3 separate regions of the Homo sapiens genome follow, and regions 2 and 3 are each linked to region 1. The links come from fine-mapping of genetic effects on gene expression. Tissue or cell type: whole blood. Region 1 holds a variant in brackets; each other region holds the start of a gene. All regions are shown on one strand. Distances are between the middles of the regions.

Region 1 (5,199 bases):
TGGCGAGACCCCCATCTCTAAAAAATTAAAAAATTAGCCAGGCGTGGTGGTGCACACCTGTAGTCCCAGCTACTCAGGAAGCTGAGTGGGAGGATTGCTTGAGCCCAGAGGTTCAAGACTGCAGTGAGCTATGATTCCACCACCGAACTCCAGTTTGGGTGACAGAGTAAGATCCTGTCTCTGAGACCAACAAGAAAAGAGGTAGCATGTGTCAAGCAAGAGCAGCAGTTCCCACTGGACCTGGAGTTTCCTGGTGCAAATCAGCCTGTGAGTCTGTATTTTCTTTTTTCTTCAAGACGGGGTCTTACTCTGTCACCCAGGTTGAAGTGCAGTGGCATGATCTCGGCTCACTGCAACCTCTGCCTCTTAGGATCAAGTGATCCTCCCACCTCAGCCCCCTGAATAGCTGGGACCACAGGTGCACGCCACCACACCTGGCTAATTTTTTTTTTGATTTTTGGTAGAGACGGGGTTTCGCTGTGTTGCCCAGGCTGGTCTCAAACTCCTGAGCTCAAGCAGTCCACCTGCCTCACCCTTCCAAAGTGCTGGGATTACAGGCACGAGCCACTGAGCCTGACAAGTTTGTACTTTTAGCACGTTCCCCTGCCCCTGCCCAGTCCTTCTCACATGGGTGGACCTAGTACCACATTCTGAGAAAGCCTGATTCCAAGGTCCTGTATCAGTCCCTTGGACCTTCTTTGACCCTCTACAAGACCTTTCTTTCCCTCCTTAACCAGAGCAACTCCTGTTTCTATCTGTTACATATGCAGCACAGCCACATCTTGTGTGGATTTGTATTATGTCCATTCAAAAGCATGTGTCAGAAAATACCAGTAAACCTGTATTAAAGTTGGATGTTGAAGTAGTGCTAACCACCCTCAACTCTAACTAAAATATCAACAAGTGGGCTGGGCGTGGTGGCTCACACCTGTAATTGCAGCACTTTGGGAGGCTGAGGTGGGTGGATCACCTGAGGTCGGGAGTTTGAGACCAGCCTGACCAACATGGAGAAACCCCGTCTCTCCTGAAAATGCAAAAATTAGCTGGATGTGGTGGCACATGCCTGTAATCCCAGCTACTCAGGAGGCTGAGGCAGGAGAATCGCTTGAACCCAGGAGGCAGAGGTTGCAGTGAGCCAAGATTGCGCCATTGCATTCTGGGCAACAAGAGCAAAACTCCGTCTCAAAAAAAAAAAAAGAAAGAAAATTAGGTAGATCTAGTGGTGCACACCTGGAATCCCAGCTATCTGGGAGGCTGAGGCATAAGAATTGCTTGAACCTGGAAGGTGGAGGTTGCAGTGAGCTCAGATTGCGCCACTGCACTCCAGCCTGGGTGGCCAAGCCAGACTCTGTCTCAAAAAAAAAAAAAAAAAAAAAAAAAGGTAACTGCTGTGTGTAATGTGATCTCCATTAAATTTGTATCTAAAGAGCGGGTTCTGCGGTAAAGAAAGGATTTGGAAAGCACTGTACTAGAGAGCTCCCTCTGAATAATGTTCCCGGTCTGAGTGCTTGCAGCATTGATCCACAGCGCTGCCCCTAAAGTGTTGGTGTGAAGGTTGTCCCACTCTTCAGGCGGGGCAAAGAGCTTGTCTGAGGGCAATCACAAACCCCCTTCTGTCTTCTAACTTCGGAGGAAGGGCCCCCTTAACCTGGAGCGGTTCCCTTTGATGGGGAGGTGGGTGTTCACCAGAGGTTTTGTTTGAAGAAAAGGTTTTACTGCCATACATGGGTTAGAGTACTTCTGTAGTCCAGAAGTTGTAAATTAGTGGTCTATGCTGTTATTTGGTTCATAATGATGATTTTTTTTTTTTTTCGAGACAGGGTCTTGCTTTGTAGCCCAGATTGGAGTGCAGTGGCACGATCTCAGCTGCCTGCAGCCTTGAACTTCTGGGCTGAAGCAATCCTCTGCCTCAGCCTCCCAAGTAGCTGGAACCACAGGCACACATCACCATGCCTGGCTAATGTTTTGATTTTTTTTTTTTTTTGTAGAAGCGAGGCCTCACCATGTTGCTCAGGCTGGTCTCCAACTCCTGGGCTCAAGCGATCCTCCAACGTCAGCCTCTCAAAGTGCTGGGATTACAGGCATGAACCACCATGCCTGGCCATAGTAATGATTTATGGTTAGAATATTTCTTAAAGGTAATTGAATTAGTTGAAAGCACTTAAATACCAGACAATATCTCACTAAGAGAAAGAAAGAAAAAGGCTAGATTTCTGCTTTCTTTTGAAAAATCAGATTGGCCTTGCTGGGCAGAGTCAGTCAGTCTGAACATCAGTCTTCCTCTTAAAACAAGCCTGAGCTTTCCTGTCTGCCTGCCAGCATGCTGCAGGTCACCCACAGGGCTGAACTGTCCCCCTGTACTGCCCACTCGGCTAACCATTGCCTCCTCCCCTCCTAGGTGTGCTGATGTATCGGGACTACCCCCTGGAACTATTCATGGCCCAGTGCTATGGCAACATCAGTGACTTGGGCAAGGGGCGCCAGATGCCTGTCCACTACGGCTGCAAGGAACGCCACTTCGTCACTATCTCCTCTCCACTGGCCACGCAGATCCCTCAGGGTGAGGATGCATGCCCTGTACCTTGCACATGTGCAGACCAATGTCACACCCCTGTCCAGGCCTCAGCTCTTTTGCCTGCCTTCTGGGTGGAATTCTGGGTTGGTGACACCACTAGAGCCCTGGTCTGTGCTCCAGACTTCTTCTTCTTATTTTTTTCTTTTTTGAGACGGAGTCTTGCACTGTTGCCCAGGCTAGAGTGCAGTGGTGCTATCGCAGCTCACTGCAGCCTCCTTCTC[C/T]CAGCTTCAAGCAATTCTCCTGCCTCAGCCTCCCGATTAGCTGAGACTACAGGTGTGCACCACCACGCCCAGCTAATTTTTGTATTTTTAATAGAGACAGGGTTTCACCGTGTTGGCCAGGCTGGTCTCAAACTCCCGGCCTCAGGTGATCCACCCGCCTCAGCCTCTCAAAGTGCTGGGATTACAGGCGTTTAAGCCATTGTGCCCAGCCCACTTTTTTTTTTTTTTTTTTTTTTTTTTTTTTTTTGGTCTGAGACGGGGTTTCACTCTCGTCAGCCAGGTTGGAGTGCAATGGTGCAATCTCGGCTCACTGTAACCTCCACCTCCCAGGCTCAAGTGATTCTCCTGCCTTAGCCTCCTGAGTAGCTGGGATTATGGGCATATGCCATTGTGCTTGGCTAAATTTTTGTATTTTTTGTAGAGATAAGGTTTCACCATTTTGGCCAGGCTGGTCTTGAACCTGAGTTCAAGTGATCTGCCCACCTTGGCCTCTCAAAGTGCTGGGATTACAGATGTGAGCCACTGCACCTGGCCTGTGTTCCAGACTTTGAATGCACCTCTTGTCTGGGACCCTTCAGAAGAGGGCTCTGTTGCTGTCCCCACCCCATTCAGGGGCCTGAAGCCTGTGTGACCACACTCTGGATTTCCCAACCACATGCCTACTGCATTTGTCTGCTCACAAACATAGCCAACGTGTGCACCAGGTTCCACTGTGCCAATGCTTCACGTTCATCATCTAATAAGGACCCTCATTGTGGCCATGGGGACAGAGGTTATTATTTGCTCTTGTTCCTGTTTTCAAGAGCAGGATGCCCGTGTTTTGTGTGTGTGTGAGAGACAGCAAGTGAATGGGAAAAAAAAAAGTGCAGGAGCCTGGCCAACATGGCAAAGCCCTGTCCCTACTAAACATACAAAAATTAGCTTGGCATGGTGGTGCACACCTGTAATCCTAGCTACTCAGGAGGCTGAAGCAGGAGGATTGCTTGAACCTGGGAGGCAGAGTTTGCAGTGAGCTGAGATCGTGCCATTGCACTCTAGCCAAAGTGAGATCCTGTCTCAAAAAAAAAAAAAAGGAAATTGAAGTCAAAGAGGGAAGTCACTCGCTAACGGTCATGTGGCACAGAGGGAGAGGAGCAGGGACTCAAGTCATTGACTGTGTACCTCCAGAGCCTGGGTTCTTGGCCCTGACCTTTGTCTGCCTCAGTCCTCAGAGTCAAGTAAGCTTCCCCAAAGCTTACCGTAGGTGCCCTGAAGTCCCTTCCCTTATAAGAGCTTTTTTGGGAAGCAAACCCACTGGGTGCCAGGCCTGCACCCTCATAGTGTGGAGAACAAGGAATCGGAGCCCCTTCCTGTCCTCCGGGGCCTGTAGCCTGATCTAGGGTTGGTCTGGGCCCTGGCTTCTTTGCCCTAGGGCAGCTGAGATGCATGAGTTTGTGTCTCTCCAGGCCTCAGCACTGTGCCCAGCACAGCAGGAGGCTCCACACCCCTTAGCTCATAGTGTTCTTTTGTTGAGGAACAAGAAGCAGTTTGAGCCTCTTAGGTGGGAGGTGGGCAGGGAAGCTTTCTCAGAGGAGGGGGCATTTAGGGGGCATTTGAGCTAAAGGTAATAGGGTTTCCACAAGGCTGGGGCGTGGCCCTAACCTTCCCTCTGGGTCCCTGCTAAGTCACTTCAAATACACGAAGTTCCTGCCATGTGCCGGTGCCACTCCAAGTGCAGGGAACAAAAGCAACGCAAACCTCAGCCCTCCTGGTGCTGCCATTGTGGTGGGGGAGACGGACAGTAACAGAGATGGAGAGGGAACTCCTGGAGTATATGAGGGTGGGGGTCCTGTAGGGAGCAGCCAAGCCAGCCGGGTGTGGTGCACTGTAGGGGTGGCTGGGGTCCGTCACTGGAGTGACACTGAAGTATGGACCAGAGGATGTGAGGGGGGAGCTGTGTGGTGTCTTGAGGCAGGTGTGAGCCTGGCGTGTTTGAGGAGCTGGGAGGAGCCCAGAGGGGCAGGTGTGGAGTGAGCAGGTGTGGAGTGAGCGGGTGTAGGGTGAGCAGGTGTGGGGTGGTTGGAGGTAAAGTCCAGGAGGTGGTGGGTGGGGGTGCAGATGGTGCAGGTTGGGTGGGGCCTCAAGGCCTTTGCCTGTTGCAGGGATGTCGACTTTTACTCAAAGTGGGACAGGAGCCGTGGGTGGGGAGGAGTCTGCTCTTCCTTGGCCTGGCTCACCTCTTCATGGAATCCGCGGGCTGCCCTGTGGATAAGGGATTGGGCAGTGTGTGAAGGGCTAGTAAGGAGGCTGCTCAGTAACTTGGGCTTGACCAGGGTGGTGCAGAGGAGGAGGTAAGAGGGGTTAGGTTCTGAAGGTGGAGTAGATGTGGAGAATGGCGGGAAGTTTGGCTTGGAGATGATACTG
Region 2 (5,122 bases), 43 kb before region 1:
TTTTGCTATGTCGCCCAGGCTGGTTTCGAACTCCTAGGCTCAAGCAGTCCTCCCTCCTCGGCCTCCCAAAGGGCTGGGATTACAGGCGTGGGCCACCGCACCTGGCCTACAGTATGCTTCATAGAAATATGAAAAGAATGAGAGCAAGGTTGAGATAGAAAGTAACAGGGCATCCCTCCTGAGTAAAACAATCCTGCCCCCTCACGCTCTCGTCTACCCTCCCGTGGGTCTCCCTGCTTCTGTCGTCTGCCAGAAACTGGCTGAGCCAAGTGCACTTGCAGACGCCATCTGTTCTCCCTGGGAGTGGGGCCGGTGCCAGCGCCAGCATCTGGACTCTTGGCAAGGAGCCCTGGAGCCCTGGAGCGAGGGAACTCCGGCCCCACAAAGGCCAGGGAATCCTCCAGTCTGGTGAGACGGAGGGCTTCTGGGAAGGGAGGCCTATACAAGGCTCCATGAAGGAGGTGGAAGCTTGCAAGACGATGATAGTCTTGTAATCAGTCCGATGGAGATGGATGTAAATAATAATATTAATAAACACCATCAAATGTGTTCAGAGTGCTTTCTTTGCCAGGCTTTGGATAAATGTTGGATATCTGTTCTTTTTATTTTTTATTTTTCTATTTCCTAGGCAGCACCTAAACCAAAATAGGTTCAGAGAGGCTCCCAATGTTGGACATTTGTTGTTGCAGCAACTCTAAGTACTCTACATATGTTATCACATAAGAGGCAAGGAGCATTATCCCCATTTTGTAGGTGAAGAAATAGGGGTTCAGAGAGGTGAAGGCATTGTCTAGAGGCCACACACTCAGTGACTTAAAGAGCCTGGAAAGGGGCCAGGAATGGTGGCTCACACCTGTAATCCCAGCACTTTGGGAGGCTGAGGCGGGTGGGTCACCTGAGGTCGGGAGTTCAAGACCAGCCTGACTCATATGGAGAAACCCCATCTCTACCAAAAATACAAAATTAGCCAGGTGTGATGGCGCATTCCTGTAATCCTAACTACTCGGGAGGCTGAGGCAGGAGAATCGCTTGAACCTGGGAGGCGGAGGTTGCGGTGAGCCGAGATCACGCCATTGCCCTCCAGCCTGGGCAACAAGAGTGAAACTCCATCTCAAACAAACAAACAAAGAGCCTGGAAAGGAAACCAGGTCTATGTGGGTCCAAATGCTGACTCATGAACATCACTGTACCACGTGACAATCAGAGCATCACCCCCTACTGGACCCCACTCCTCAGCCTTCTTTCCCTAGAAACTCCTAACCCACCTGCCTCTGCTTCCTCCTCACCCATTGGCTTAGCAAGGGCCACAGGAACACAGCCCGGGGTTACAATATGCTGGGCTTGGTACCAGCTGTTTACTGTGGCCAAGTGAGCATGCAAGTGAGCCCGTTTATTTTCTTTTCTTTTTTTTTTTTTTTTTTTTTTTTTGAGACGGAGTCTTGCTGTTTCCCAGGCTGGAGTGCAGTGGCGCGATCTCGGCTCACTGCAAGCTCCGCCTCCCGGGTCCACGCCATTCTCCTGCCTCAGCCTCCCAAGTAGCTGGGACTACAAGCGCCCGCCACCAAGCCCGGCTAATTTTTTGTATTTTTAGTAGAGACAGGGTTTCACCGTGTCAGCCAGGATGGTCTGGATCTCCTGACCTCGTGATCCGCCCGCCTCGGCCTCCCAAAGTGTTGGGATTACAGGCGTGAGCCACTGCGCCCGGCCCGTGAGCCCGTTTCTTTATCTGCAAAACAGGGATTAAAAACAAGCCAACACCCCTTCAGCACTCCTCCGCAAAAAAACACCCCAAAACAAAATAGGCCAGGCGCGGTGACTCACACCTGTAATCCCACCGCTTTGGGAGGCCGAGGCTGCAGTGAACCCAGGAGTCTGAGGCTGAAGCGAGCAATGATTGCGCCACTGCCTTCCAGCCTGGGCGATCAGAGCAAGACCCCGTCTTTTAAAAAATAATAATAAAAAAAAAATCTGCCGGGCGCGGTGGCTCACGCCTGTAATCCTAACACTTTGGGAGGCTGAGGCGGGCAGATCACCTGAGGTCAGGAGTTCAAGACCAACCTGACCAACACAGCGAAATCTCATCTACTAAAAATACAAAAATTAGCTGGGCGTGGTGGCTTGCCCCTGTAATCCCAGCTACTCGGGAGGCTGAGGCAGGAGAATCGCTTGAACCCGGGAAGCGGAGGTTGCGGTGAGCCGAGATCACTCCACTGCACTCTAGCCTGGGCGACAGAGCAAGACTCCGTCTCAAAAACAAAACAAAACAAACAAAAAAACCAAAGTAAAATAGCAGCGACAACAACAACAACAACAAGAAAAACCCGGAGCTGAGAGGAAGAATGAATGCGATGATGAATGTAAAGCGTTTAACACAGGGCTTGGGTACAGTCTGCCCTCAATGAACCAATGATGTACCCCTAGGCAATTTACCTAACCTCGGCTTGCCAGTTTCCTCCCGCGTGAAACAGGACAATAAACGATTATGCCTCTTAGGGTTGTGCTGAGGAATACATGTGTATGTAAGTTTATTTGCAAAGCACTTAGAACAGGGCGCACGGTCCTTGTTGCTGTTATTATTATTGGCTATTATTGCGCAAAGGGGAAGGGAGGCGGGGCCAAGCCAGGAAGGCCCTGGAGAATCCGGGGTGCCCCCTCCTCCGGCAGAGCTTGGGCCTGGGCTCACGAGGAAGGGGCTGCAGTTCTCCAAGGATTCCCGCCTGCTCCCAGACCCCCGGGAGTCGTAGGAACCCGTTCCTGGACGCTGACGTCGGCTTTCAGGGATCCCTCGCCGGACGCCGCGGAGGGACAGAGCCTGGGAAGCCGTCGCCCCGCCCCGTCCCCGCCCCCGCGCGCAGCGGGCCCGGGGCGCTGAGACCCGCGTAGAGCAAAGCGCAAGGTCCCAGCGCCCCTTGGATCCTCGGTGGCAGGGTCCGGGCAAGTGTCATTGCGAGGGTTCAGGAAGCCCCGGCCTGTGATCGTGAGCGGTGAGTGAGGGACGTAGGTGGGTGGGGGTCACAGTCCCTTCCCTGGGTCCTGGAGTTGGGGATGAGAGGGCAAAGCTTTGGCGAGGAAATCGGCTCAGTCAAGGTTTGGAATGAGCAGGCAGGAGGCTTGGGGACCTTCCAGGGGGATCGTAGGACGAGAAGAAGAATATTCTTTCTGGTTGTGTTGCGTGTGTACGTGTATGTGTGTGCTGGGGTTGAGGGTGTTTATGGGGGCGAGGTGTGCAAAGGATTCTGGAGAGCTGGTGCATGTGTGGGAGTTGTGTGGAGTCATAGGTGTGTGGGTGGAGTAGGGCAGGGGTGCCTGGGCCTGATGAGTGGGGCAGGCATGCCAGAGGTCATGAGAATAGGAGAGAGTGCCGGGGTGCATGTGTGCGTGTGTGCACAGGTGTCTGTGGTTTGTGATGCAGTGGGGAGTAGGGTTGTGCACGGAGTCAATTGGGATAAATGTGTAAGAAGGTTGGGGACCTGAAAGGGGTGTTTTCTGGGAGCTGATGTTTTGGGGCAAATATTCAAGGAGTCCTTTGGGAGATGAATGTGTGGAGGTGGAGGCTGGGCTTGCCTAGATGGGGCTGTGTGGCAGGGGACTTCGGGGGGCAGGTCTAGGGGACAGAGGATGGGGAATGTAGACTAGAGTGCAGTTCCAGGCAGCACTGGGGGTAGGGGATGGGTGTGTGTGTGACTGGGAGGGGTGCCTGGGCCTGGATAGGTGGTCACGCGGTATGAACCTGGGATGGATATTGGGGGTGTTTGTGGGGCAGGTAAGTGTGTAAGGCATGGTGCAACAGGTGCTGCAACTTATTGGGGTAAGTGTGATGGGTATGTGGCTTTTGCCTGAGAGAAATGCCCAGAATTTGGCTGGGTGCGGTGGCTCACGCCTGTAATCCCAGCACTTTGGGAGGCCAAGGCTGGTGGATCCCCTAAGGTCAGGAGTTCGGGACCAGCCTGGTTAACACAGTGAAACCCTATCTTTACTAAAAATACAAAAAAAAAAATTAGCCGGGCATGGTGGTGGGCGCCTGTAATCCCAGCTACTCGGGAGGCTGAGGCAGAATGGTTTGAACCCGGGAGGTGGAGGCTGCAGTGTGCTGAGATCATGCCACTGCACTCTAGCGGATCTGCAGTGGTGGATCTGCCTGGGCAACAGATGGAGACTTTGTCTCAAAAAAAAAAAAAAAAAAGAGAGAGAGAGAGAAATGCCCAAAATTGAATGTCCAGACCCCTGAGTTCTCTTCATAACCTGAGGCCAATCTTTTTTTCTCTCTGGGCCTCAGCTTCTGTATCTGTAAAATGGGTCTGAGGACCACTGCACTAACTAGTCTCTGCCTGAGTCTCTCTAAAGCAAGGGGTCAGAGGTTGAGTGAAGTGAGACTTTTACAACTTGTCTTTTTCTTCCCCCTACCCCTAGGAAACCCCTCCTGGAGTTTCCCCAAAGCCATGGACAGCCCTAGTCTTCGTGAGCTTCAACAGCCTCTGCTGGAGGGCACAGAATGTGAGACCCCTGCCCAGAAGCCTGGCAGGCATGAGCTGGGGTCCCCCTTAAGAGAGATAGCCTTTGCCGAGTCCCTGAGGGGTTTGCAGTTCCTGTCACCGCCTCTTCCCTCCGTGAGCGCTGGCCTGGGGGAACCAAGGCCCCCTGATGTTGAGGTAGGAAACAGCAGGCCTTAGTGGAAGGCACGGGAGGGGGCTGGGGTGAGCCCCACTAAGGCCAGCATCTGGCAGGTTGACAGCTGTGCCGATCTGCCTTAGGCCTGGAGTCTCACTTCCCAGCTGTGTGTGGGCTTCTGAGATTTCCAGTTACGGTTCTTCTTGTTTTATGTCTCTCATCTTTGTTGCCTGGCTTTTGGCTCTGTCTTCCCTCTGATCTCAGACTCCGCTGGTTGGTGTCTTCAGAGTGCATGCACCTCTGGCTTTTGTCCACCCTGCTGTCTCCCTCTTTGTGTGTGTGTGTGAGAGAGAGAGAGAGAGAGAGAGAGAGAGACAGGGTCTCGCTCTGTTGCCCAGGCTGGAGTGCAGTGGAGCGATCATAGTTTACTGCAACCTTGACCTCCCGGGCTTAAGCAATCCTCCCACCTCAGCCTCCTGAGTAGCTGGGACCACAGGCATGTGCCACCATGCCT
Region 3 (5,122 bases), 21 kb after region 1:
AAATCAGGGTTTGGCTTTAGCCATGTTAGGTTTGAGATGCCAGTTAGACTCTGAGTGGAGCTGGTGGGTGGCAAACTGCCTATGTGAGCTGGAGTCCTTGAGAAGGGTACAGCCTGGAGATGGAGCTGCAAGAGACATCAAGGCTGGCACTGGAAGCCACAGTGCTGCCTGGGAATGGCAAGGACAGGACCTGGGCTCTGGTGGGCCAGGGTCTCCACAGGGTCTTGCAGACCAGGGATTCTCACCGATTTTTCTCATGCACCTTGTACATCTCCCTTTGGAGCAAGTAATCCCTCAGAGCCTCCACATCGTAGAAATAGTTGGTCAGGAACTGGAGTATTGTCCTTTTCTTCTTCTGATTGCCCTCTGGGGCCACTGCCGCACCCAGGCGATGGATGCCCCTGATACGCCCATTCCACATGGGGGCGACCAGGCGCAGGGACTGGGGAGGGGGAGAGGAAAGGAGCTGAGCCTGGAGCCTCCTGGGAGACACAGAGCTGGATCCCCCAGTTCTTGCTCCATGAACCTCAATCCCTCTGCTTCCCAACTCACCCTAAGTTCTTCCTTCAAAACTTCAAAACTGTCTTTGAGATTCCAAAAATTTCCCCATGTTTTTTCCAAGTTCCTCCTCCCCTTAGTGAACCCTAAATTTTCTCGACTAGCCATATATTGTTGATTTTCCTAAATTCTTCCTCTAACTTTCCCCCAAACCCTTATCACTCAAAACCTGCATTATTTGACCTCTTAATTTTCCACAGATTTGCCCCTTAATTACCCAATTCTTCTGCTGGGGTCTTCCCAAATGACTTCTTTCTTTCCCCAGAATATAATCTTAAAAACTTATCTCCAAACCTCAAGGAGAGGGTGCTCTGAGCAATCCCTAAAACCAACCAAGCTTGTCCAACCCGCCGCCTGCATGCAGCCCAACACAAACATGCAAACTTTCTTAAAACATTAGGAGGATATTTTTGTGATTTTTTTTTTTTTTTTTTTGGCTCATCAGTTATGGTTAGTGTATTTTATGTGTGGCCCAAGACAATTCTTCTTCTTCGAACAGCGTGGCCCAGGGAAGCCAAAAGATTGGACACCCCTGAACCGAGAAGGGTATAAAAAGCATGAGCTTTGAAGAGGAGAGTAAGAAAGTCGAGGGGTGTGGCCAATGGGAAGAAGCCCCCAAACTCTTCAATTTTGCTTTCAAGGTCTCCTCTTAATCTACCCCAATTTCTCTTTGCTTTAACCAAATTCTTTTTTTTTTTCAAATTATCTCGATAATTTTACCCAAACCCTTATTTTCCTCAAAAGTTTAAAGCTGCCAACCTCTTTAATTTTCCCTAAATTCATTCCTTGATTTTAAATCCTCTGAAAGAATATCTCAAATTCTCCTCTTAATTTCACCCAGATCATGCCCTTAGAACCTCCAAATTGACCTCTTGGTTCCCCCACCCATCATGCTTTTGAGTTTTCTGTAAAAATTCGTCAATCTCCCACTAACTTTCCTTACATTCATCCTTCGGTCTTCTAAGACCAAATCCCACATCCTCGAACAATCCCTTCCAAGCTCTCTTATCCTACAGGCCCCACCCTTGCCTGTCCATTAGCTCCTTGTGTCATCCCTCCCTCTGATTGGTTAGTCGCGTCGCTCTTCGGCAGCCACTCCCTCATCCCCATTGGATACTCTCAGCCAAGTCCCTGCCTCCTCTCGCTCGCTAAAGCGTCTCCTCCGCCTGCGACCCTCACAGATCCTTCCTGGCCCCCACTAGCCACAGGTTTGCACTCCCAGTACGGGGCTTGCCAGGCTTAGCCTGCTGCCTCACGGCTTTCTGCTCTCGTGGCCGCCAACAGAGGCCCTGAATGCGGAGGCTGTAGAGCGGACTTCAAATTTGGGGCTCTAGGAACTCCGGTCACTTACCGCCCAGGGAGCCGCCATCTTGCTAAGGTTTCGTAACCGGAAGGGGCCGGTCTTATCCCACGCTCCTGGTTCAGCGCGAACTTATTCTCCTGTGGCCACGCCCCGCGTTTTCTAACCGTCCTCTTAAAGGTGCACGCACTTTTTACTCTTAAAGGGTTTAGGGATTGCTCACAGCGCCCTCTCCCTGAGCTTCAAAACGAGACACAGGTCGGGCTCACGCACCTGTGAACCCAGCACTTTGTGGAGGCCGAGGCGAAAGCATCGCTTGAAGCCAGGAGTTCGAGACCAGCCTGGGCAACATAGGGGAGCCTTTATCTCCACAAAGAAATAGGGCAACCTTATATCCACAAAAAATAAAATGTTAGCCGGGCGTGGTGGTGCACGCCTGTGGTCCCAGCTACTCACGAGGCTGAGGCGGGGGGATCACTTGAGCCGGGGAGGTCGAAGTTGCAGTGAGCTGTGATTGCGCCACTGCACTCCAGCCTGGGTGACAGAGCGAGACGCTGTCTCTTAAAACAAAAAATTGAAAAACAAAACAAACCCCAGGACTCCACAATCTTTCCCTAGGAGAAGATGGGGTGTTCTTCCCGGCAGAGTACCTTTCTTTCCTGACTGCAATTGCAGTCTCCCCAAGCTTTCTTATTCTTCCAGCTTCCACTCACTACCTCCTAAAAACAGGGAATGAGGGGGCTGAAAAGCTGACCACGTCATTTTTAAAAATTAGGGTCAGGTAAGAGAGTGGGTGAAGAGGTTAGATGTCAAGGTTAGAGACTGAGGTGAGATCTCAAGACCAGTTTGGAGTTGAAAGCTAGATCGCAGCATGAAGAGCCATTGTGAAGTCTTGTGGATAGAATTATTCATTCATTAGTTCCAAGAATATTTACTGAGCACCTACCACGTGATGGCAGGCACTGTTCTAGATGCCGAGGTTACCATGGTGAGCAGGACAGACCCAGTCCCTCTCTCAGGAAGTCAACATTCTGGGCTGGGAGAGGATGGATGTGGGAGAGGATGAATAAGAAACAAAGGAATCAGCAAGGCAATTTTGATGAGAAGCAGATAAAAAAAAGTGACTGGGTGTAGGGCCATCAGCAAAGGCCTCTCTGAAGAGGTGACATTGAAGTAGAAGTGAATGATAAGGAAAGAGCCATTCAAAGATCTAGGGGAAAAGCGCTGCAGGGAGAGGTAGCCTCTAGAGCAGAGAGGCCTTGAGGTGGGAACCAGCTTGCAGACAGAGATAGGAGACTGGGTTGAGAGGTGGGCAGGGGCTGACGGTGCAGGCCTGGTAGGGTTTTATTCTATTCACAGTGGGAAGAAGGGAGTGTCAAAATCGGATTTACATTTTGTAAAGATTATTTCTGCCAGGTGGAGAATGTACCTTAGAGCAGCGGTCCCTAACCGTTTTGTTACCAGGGACTGGTTTCGTGGAGGACAATTTTTCCATAGACTGGGGGTCGGGGGTGGGGTGGGGATGGTTTTGGGATGAAACTGTTCCACCTGAGATCATCAGGCATTAGATTCTCATAAGGAGCAGGCAACCTAGATCCCCCGCACGCACAGTTCACAATAGGGTTTGCCTCCTATGAGAATCTAATGCCACTGCTGATGTGACAGGAGGCGGAGCTCAGGCGGTAATGCTCACTTACCCGCTGCTCATCTCTTGCTGTGCGGCCCAGTTCCTAGCAGGCGAGGGGCTGGTACTGGTCCTTGGCCCAGGGACTGGGGACCCTTGCCTTAGAGGGCAAGGGTGGATGCAGGGGACCAGTAAAAGAGGCTGCTGTAGCAGTCTAGGCAAGAGATGAATGGGGATGGGGCAGAGGGAATGGTGAGAAGTGCTCAAATCCTGGGCCTGTTTTGAAGGTTAAGCCAACAGATTGAGAAACTAAAAGCAGACGGGCGTGGCTGTGCACGTGAGGAAACTGGAAGGGCAGCAGGTTTAGGAAGGTGGGTGTGGCAGCTGAATAACGAACCCTCTCCCCATACCTGTGAATCCCTGGGCACTGTGACTATGTTACTTTCTATGGTAAAAGGGACTTGGGGCTGGGCGCGTTGGCTCACGCCTGTAATCCCAGCACTTTGGGAGGCCGAGGTGGGCAGATCACCTGAGGTCAGGGGTTTGAGACCAGCCTGGCTAACATGGTGAAACCCCGTCTCCACTAAACATACAAAAATTCGCCAGGTGTGGTGGCGTGCACCTGTAACCCCAGCTGTTCAGGAGGCTGAGGCAGGGGAATCGCTTGAACCCGGGAGGCGGAGGTTGCAGTGAGCCAAGATTGCACCACTGCAGTCCAGCCTGGATGACAGAGCGAGACTCTGTCTCAAAAAACAAAATACATATATATATATATTGTTCATTTGTTTATTTTAAGATGGAGTCTTGCTCTGTCGCCAGGCTGGAATGCAGTGGCGTGATCTTGGCTTACTGCAACCTCCACCTCCTGGGTTCACACCATTCTCCTGCCTCAGCCTCCCGAGTAGCTGGGACTACAGGCACGCGGCAGCATGCCCGGCTAATTTTTTGTGTTTTACTAGAGACGGGGTTTCACCATGTGGCCAGGATGGTCTTGATCTCCTGACCTCGTGATCTACCATTATATATATGTATATATATGCACCTTGGGTCTGAAGGAAGGGTCCAAGGCCGAGAGAGGCCTGCAGTGCTTCCCAGACTTTTCCACAGCAGAAGCCCTCACCCTCAACAGGGATAATATACCCATAGGCAAGTCCAGGGTCAGCAGAATTGGCTGCTTGGCCCTAGGCCAGCAGCCTGGACACAGGCACTCCAGCTAAGGGATTGCTGTCTTGGTGCCCCTGGGAGCCATTCCTGCCCCCAAAGGCACACTGGTGGGAAAGCCCTAGGATGACCCGTGCCAAGAGGACAAGCAAGGACCAAGCTATGGGCAAGCCAGAGGTCAAATGGAGGCTGAGGAGAGGCTGGAGAAGTGGTGGTGGGGGGCAGGTGGAAGGACAGAGGGTGCCAGGCATCTACAGACACTGAGCGCCCCTGAGGGGTCAGGCCTGAGACAGGCAGGGAAGGGTGGAGTTAGACCTCTGCAAGAGGCTATGTTTGAACCCTGTGAGCAGAGTTGAGGTTAGACTTCAGAAGGAAAAAGAAAAGCACAAGGCCAGCTGATTCTCTCTGAAGAGTGGACTTTGGGATACCTTTCCCAGGAACCCCCATCCCACTCCCTCTGCCCTTTACTCTCCACCACG

What was found. PIP is the estimated chance that this variant, and not a neighbour inherited with it, causes the effect.
Region 2: TMEM91 starts here. The variant in region 1 is fine-mapped to the expression of TMEM91 in whole blood (INTERVAL, PIP above 0.99).
Region 3: it holds the start of DMAC2, and the variant in region 1 is fine-mapped to the expression of DMAC2 in whole blood (INTERVAL, PIP above 0.99).

What each region holds. Positions count from the first base shown.
Region 1 is chr19:41,416,737-41,421,935 of GRCh38, forward strand. It overlaps BCKDHA (branched chain keto acid dehydrogenase E1 subunit alpha), which reads left to right. Exons shown (of 9, transcript NM_000709.4): 5 at 2,399-2,560. Among named protein-coding and RNA genes, the nearest start is that of B3GNT8, 8.0 kb to the right of the region's middle. The variant C/T (reference allele first, on the strand shown) is at 2,797.
Region 2 is chr19:41,373,871-41,378,992 of GRCh38, forward strand. TMEM91 (transmembrane protein 91) reads left to right here and starts at 2,663. Exons shown (of 4, transcript NM_001098821.2): 1 at 2,663-2,984; 2 at 4,411-4,649. The coding sequence starts at 4,440. RefSeq lists a silencer at 2,779-2,908.
Region 3 is chr19:41,437,973-41,443,094 of GRCh38, forward strand. It overlaps DMAC2 (distal membrane arm assembly component 2), which reads right to left and starts at 1,940. Exons shown (of 6, transcript NM_018035.3): 1 at 1,910-1,940; 2 at 246-442. The coding sequence starts at 1,927. RefSeq lists an enhancer at 1,675-1,844.